Linked DNA regions of Homo sapiens. The protein of the gene in region 2 purifies or fractionates together with the protein of the main gene of each other region. This does not show direct contact. Each region holds a gene or a part of one and is shown on either strand. Other genes may lie near its edges. The genes, in order: HRNR and RAD51C.

What was found.
Region 1: the proteins of RAD51C (region 2) and HRNR purify together in Homo sapiens (co-immunoprecipitation; one large-scale study listed by IntAct). This does not show direct contact.

The regions. Positions count from the first base shown.
Region 1 is NC_000001.11:152,217,542-152,221,361, forward strand, and holds part of HRNR (hornerin), read right to left. Parts: coding exon 1-3,820. UniProt on the Homo sapiens protein: Component of the epidermal cornified cell envelopes.
Region 2 is NC_000017.11:58,733,142-58,736,216, reverse strand, and holds the end of RAD51C (DNA repair protein RAD51 homolog 3), read right to left. Parts: intron 2,100-3,075; coding exon 1,995-2,099; 3' UTR 606-1,994; downstream 1-605. UniProt on the Homo sapiens protein: Essential for the homologous recombination (HR) pathway of DNA repair. Involved in the homologous recombination repair (HRR) pathway of double-stranded DNA breaks arising during DNA replication or induced by DNA-damaging agents.

The DNA.
Region 1 (3,820 bases), on a different chromosome or scaffold from region 2:
CGCGACTAGGAGACTGGCCAGATCCAGCCCCATGTCGGCCATAGCCAGAAGACTGACTGGAGCCAGAGCCACGGTGGCCATAGCTGGAAGACTGGCCTGTGCTAGATCCCTCCTGGTCAAAGGTTGATGACTGTCCTGATGTAGAACCATGCTGTCCTTGGCTACAGAAGTGCCCTGAGCCACTACCATGCTGACTGTAAGCAGAGGAATGTCCTGAGCCAGACTCATGTTGACCAAAGACAGAAGAGTGACCCGAGCGAGACTCATATGGGCCACGGCTGGAAGAACGACCTGAGCCAGACCCATGTTGGCCGTGGCTGGAGGAGTGCCCCAAACCGGACCCATGTCGGCCGCGGCTAGGGGAATGGCCAGATCCAGACCCTTGTCGGCCGTGGCCCGAAGACTGACGGGAGCCAGACCCATGCTGACCATAGTGGGAAGACGAACCTGAGCTAGATCCGTGTCGTTCACCCCTAGATGACTGTCCTGATCTAGAGCCGTGTTGTCCGTAGCCAGAGGAGTGACCTGAGCCAGACCCATGCTGACTGTAACTAGAGGACTGCCCTGAGCTAGACTCGTGGTGACCAAAGCCAGAAGACTCGCCTAAGCCAGACCCATGTTGGCCACTGCTGGAAGACCGACCGGAGCCAGACCCATGTCGGCCGTAGCTGGGAGACTGCCTTGACCCAGACCCACGCTGGCCGTGGCCTGGAGACTGGCCAGATCCAGAGCCCTGTCGGCCATAGCCAGAAGACTGACTTGAGCCAGAGCCATGCTGACCGTGGCTGGAAGACTGACCTGAGCTAGCTCCATGTTGGCCACAGCTCGATGACTGTCCTGATGTAGAACCGTGTTGCCCATGGGTAGAGGAATGACCTGAGCTAGATCCATGTTGACCGTAGCCAGAGGACTGTCCTGAGCGAGACTCTCGGTGACCTAAGCCAGAAGAGTGACCGGAGCCAGACTCATATGGGCCACGGCTTGAAGACCACCCTGAGCCAGACCTATATGGGCCATAGCTGGAAGACTGCCCGGAACCAGACCCATGTCGGCCACGGCTAGGGCTAGGAGACTGGCCAGATCCAGACCCATGTTGGCCGTGGCCCAAAGACTGACGGGAGCCAGACCCATGCTGACCATAGCTGGAAGACGAACCTGAGCTAGATCCATGTTGTTCGCTCCTAGATGACTGTCCTGACCTAGAGCCGTGTTGTTCGTAGCTGGAGGAGTGACCTGAGCCAGATCCATGCTGAGTGTAACCAGAGGACTGCCCTGAGCTAGACTTGTGACCAAAGCCAGAAGACTGGCCTGAGCCAGACCCATGTCGGCCACTGCTGGAAGACCGACCGGAGCCAGACCCATGTCGGCCATAGCTGGGAGACTGCCCTGACCCAGACCCACGCTGGCCGTGGCCTGGAGACTGGCCAGATCCAGAGCCATGTCGGCCGCGGCCCGAAGCGTGATGGGAGGCAGACTCATGCTGACCATAGCTGGAAGATTGACCTGAGCTAGAGTCATGTTGGCCGGAGCTTGATGACTGCCCTGACGTAGATCCATGTCGTCCCTGGCTAGAGAAGTGACCTGAGGCAGAACCATGCTGACTATAGCCCTGTCCTGAGCCAGACTCGTGTTGCCCAAAACCAGAAGCCTGGCCTGAGCCAGACTCATAATGGCCACAGCTGGAAGAACAACTTGTGCCAGACCCGTGTTGGCCGTGGCTGGAGGAGTGCCCTGAACTGGACCCATGTCGGACACGGCTAGGAGAGTGGCCAGATCCAGACCCTTGTCGGCCGTGGCCCGAAGATTGATGGGAGCCCGACCCATGCTGACCATAGCTGGAAGACAAACCTGAGCTAGATCCGTGTTGTTCACTCCTAGATGACTGTCCTGACCTAGAGCCGTGTTTTCTGTAGCCGGAGGAGTGACTTGAGCCAGATCCATGCTGACTGTAACCAGAGGACTGCCCTGAGCCAGACTTGTGACCAAAGCCGGAAGACTGGCCTGAGACAGACCCATGTGGGCCATTGCTTGAAGACCAACCGGAGCCAGACCCATGTTGGCCGTAGCTGGAAGAGTGCCCAAAATCGGACCCATGTCGGCCGCGACTAGGAGACTGGCCAGATCCAGAGCCCTGTTGGCCATAGCGAGAAGACTGACTTGAGCCAGAGCCATGCTGACCGTGGCTGGAAGACTGACCTGAGGTAGCTCCATGTTGGCCACAGCTCGATGACTGTCCTGATGTAGAACCATGTTGCCCATGGGTAGAGGAATGACCCGAGCTAGATCCGTGTTGACCGTAGCCAGAGGACTGTCCTGAGCGAGACTCTTGGTGACCTAAGCCAGAAGAGTGACCGGAGCCAGACTCATATGGGCCACGGCTTGAAGACCTCCCTGAGCCATACCCATGTGGGCCATAGCTGGAAGACTGCCTGGAACCAGACTCATGTCGGCCACGGCTAGGGCTAGGAGACTGGCCAGATCCAGACCCATGTCGGCTGTGTCCCAAAGATTGACGGGAGCCAGACCCATGCTGACCATAGCTGGAAGATGAACCTGCACTAGATCCTTGTCGTTCACCCCTAGATGACTGTCCTGACCTAGAGCCGTGTTGTCCGTGGCCGGAGGAGTGACCTGAGCCAGATCCATGCTGAGTGTAACCAGAGGAATGCTCTGAGCTAGACTCGTGGTGACCAAAGCCAGAAGAGTAGCCTGAACCAGACACATATGGGCCACTGCTGGAAGATCGACCAAAGCCAGTCCCATGTTGGCCGGAGCTGGGAGACTGCCCTGACCCAGACCCACGCTGGCCGTGGCCTGGAGACTGGCCAGATCCAGAGCTGTGTTGGCCGCGGCCTGAAGAGTGACGGGAGGCAGACTCATGCTGACCATAGCTGGAAGACTGACGTGAGCTGGAGCCATGTTGGCCAGAGCTTGATGCCTGCCCTGACGTAGATCCATGTTGTCCCTGGCTAGAGGAGTGACCTGAGCCAGAACCATGCTTACTATAGCCAGAGGACTGTCCTGAGCCAGACTCATGTTGCCCAAAGCCAGAAGTCTGGCCTGAGCCAGACTCATAATGGCCACGGCTGTAAGAGTAACTTGAGCCAGACCCGTGTTGGCCGTGGCTGGAGGAGTGCCCCGAACCGGACCCATGTCGGACGTGGCTAGGAGACTGGCGAGATCCAGACCCTTGTCGGCCGTGGCCCAAAGACTGACGGGAACCAGACCCATGCTGACCATAGCTGGAAGACGAACCTGAGCTAGATCTGTGTCGTTCACCCCTAGATGACTGTCCTGACCTAGAGCCGTGTTGTCCGTAGCCAGAGGAGTGACCTGAGCCAGATCCATGCTGACTGTAACCAGAGGACTGCCCTGAGCTAGACTTGTGTTGACTAAAGCCAGAAGACTGGCCTGAGCCAGACCCATGTGTGTCATTGCTGGAAGACTGTCCGGAGCCAGAGCCGTGTTGGCCATAGTTGGGAGACTGCCCTGACCCAGACCCACATTGGCCGCGGCCTGAAGACTGATGGGAGTCGGAGTTTTGCTCACCATAGCTGGAAGACTGACCTGAGTAGGAGTTATGTTGGCCAGAAAAGTCTCTTTGAAAACTCAGTCTTCTGGATATGGATTCAGTCCCAGGTTTAAGACTTCCTCTGACGTTTCTGGAATAGGAATCATTCTCTCCTGCACTCCAACTTGAATGACTAAAAGAGGATTCTTGCCGTTTGTTCTCCTCTTTTTCAGTTTCTTCTTGTTCCTCTTGGTGCTGGTGAGTGTCATCTCTCAGCTTTGACCCTGAAACTTGGCAGTAATCTTTGCC
Region 2 (3,075 bases):
ACAAAACAGACAAACACTGGGGTCTACTACCTAAGGGTGGAAGGTGGGAGGAAGGAGAGAAGCAGAAAAGGTAACTATTGGGTACTGAGTTTAACTCCTGGGTGATGAAATAATCTGTACAATAAACCCGTGACATGAGTTTACCTACGTAACCAACCTTCACACGTACCCCTGAACCTAAAATAATAGTTTAAAAATAAATATATAAATATGGCTGGGCGCGCAGTCTCACACCTGTTAATTCCAGCACTTTGGGAGGCAGAGGTGGGCGGGTCACTTGAGCCCCAGGAGTTCGCGACCACCCTAGCCAACATAGAGAAACCTGTCTCTACTAAAATTACAAACTATTAGCTTGGCACGGTGGTGCATGCCTGTAATCCCAGCTACTTGGGAGGCTGAGGCACAAGAATCGCCTAAACCCTGGAAGCAGAGGTTGCGGTGAGCCAAGATTGTGCCACTGCACTGCAGTCTGGGTGACAGAGCGAGATTCTGTCCCAAAATTAATTATTTTTTCCCCCACAGGGAACCAAAGTAAATTTTGTGAGTAAGTTGAAAAGTACTAAGAGCCAAGTGTGAAAATATTTTTAGGTGATTTTGAAACCATCGAGAATTGAAATCTTTAATTTATTTAAGCAAAGTTAAGATTATTCAAAGAAAAATGTCAACATAACAACTAGAATTCTAGAATGGATCATACCGTGTTTCAAAATATAGAAATGAGGCCAGGTGTGGTGGCTCACATCTGTAATCCCAGCACTTTGGGAAGACAAGGCAAGAGGATCGCTTGAGACCAGGAGTTTGAGACCAGCCTGGGCAACATAGTGAGACCTTGTCTCTACAAAAAAATCCAAAAATTAGCAGGGCATGGTAGTGCCTCCCTGTAGTCCCAGCTACTCAGGAGGCTGAAGTGAGAGGATTGCTTGAGCCCGGGAGGTCGAGGCTGCAGTGAGCTATGATCATGCCACTGCACTCCAGCCTGGGTGACGGAGTGAGACCTTGTCTCAAAACAAAAACAAAAACGTAGCAATAAATGATTGTGAGCTTATCAACCTATTCTGGAAGACATATGTTCCAAACAATCTCTAGATGAGATAACAGCTCCAAAGTCCTCCCTTTAACATTATAAAATGTCATTAAAAGCTAAACAAATGGCTTAGATTTTAGGATTGAGGTCACTAAAATCAGTTTGGTCACCTAAAATTTGTATCTTACCTATAAAACTGAACAGAATAATATGCTGACTCATGGTGCTGGCTTCTCTTTTATAATTATAAAAGCGGGTAATTTTAAAGAATTATCAAATTTACATTTAAAAAGAACATGGCTGGGCACAGTGGCTCACGACTGTAATCCCAGCACTTTGGGAGGCAGGGGCAGGCAGATCACCTGAGGTCAGGAGTTCAAGACCAGCTTGGCCAACATGGTAAAACTCTGTCTCTACAAAAATACAAAAAATTAGCCAGGCACGATGGCAGGTGCCTGTAACCCCAGCTACTCGGGAGGCTGAGGCAGATGAATCGCTTGAACCTGGGAGGCGGAGGTTGCAGTGAGCAGAGATTGCGCCATTGCACTCCAGCCTGGACTACAGAGCGAGAATCCATCTCCAAAAAAAAAAAAAAAAAAAAAAACACAATAAGAATATGATATGTTTCTTCCTAAGATTTTATAGGCAACTGGGAAAGAAAGGGGTGAAAACAGTATGAATGGTAAATTCAGACTGGCCACATGAGATCAGCTTTCCACATTTGTGAAATATAATAATCATCTCTACTGAATGTTACTGAAAATGAAAACAGGGTAAAATATAATTGCAGAATACTGCTTTAGAAAAACTTTCACAGAATCATATTTAGGTATTTTTCCCATTCACTTCATATGATCTGGATTCATTCATGCCATAGTGTGTTTATTTATACTTTAAGGTAACAAGTCCACTTGTACACATTGATTTCACAACATCAATAAATTTGTACACTTTGAGATTTGTTTCTGGGTTATAATTCTTCCTCTGGGTCTCGTGACCGTTTCCGGGTGCTCAAGGAACCTTCTGTTTGCAATGAACATGCAGAAGTAACAACAGTATCTCTAAATCCCTGAGGCTGAAAGATAAAAAATATATATACAAATATGCTTTAAGAACATTTGAAGACTGATCTTAGAAATATTTTTAAGTAACTAATAAGAAAGCTACTTTATTCTAGGGCCAGGCGCAGTGGCTCACACCTGTAATCCCAGCACTTTGGGAGGCTGAGGTGGGCAGATCATGAGGTCAGGAGTTCAAGACCAGCCTGGCCAACATGGTGACCCCTATCTCTACCAAAAATATAAAAATTAGCTGGGCATGGTGGCACACACCTCTAGTCCCAGCTACTCTGGAGGCTGAGGCAGGAGAATCGCTTGAACCTGGGAGGCGGAGGTTGCAGTGAGACAAGATTGTGCCACTGCACTCTAGCCTGGGCGAAATAGTGAGACTTCGTCTCAAAAAAAAAGAAAGTTCTTGAGATAGAAATTTATCAACCACTGTGAATGAAGAGAATAAACCTCATGGATACGTGCCAAAGCCCGGGCTATATTAAGAGTATTTTATATATACTTATTTATACCCTTGCATACACACGCACAGAAATAACATTGCATTATAAAAATGTTCTCTAAAGGTCAATCCTAACAAACTTTACGATAGCTTTGTTAGAAGTAAAAGGAAATAACCTAAGTCTTAGGTACTTTACAGATTTATTTTCATAATTAAATACTCTAAAGTTTTCCAACTATGATATTTCTCTCTCTCTTTTTTTTCCCCAACTAGGATATTTCAAGTACACCTGGGTACTGCAAAGACTAAGTGGATAATTCAGTTTCAGAATCTCTATTTCTGTTTTTGTTGTTATAAAAATGAGATAAAGCCGGGCTCGGTGGCTCACGCCTGTAATCCCAGAATTTTGGAAGGCTGAGAAGGGCGGATCACTTGAGGTCAGGAGTTTGAGACTAGTCTGGCCAACATGGCGAAACCCCATCTCTACTAAAAACACAAAAATTAGCCAGGCGTGGTAGCACACGCCTATAATCCCAGCTACT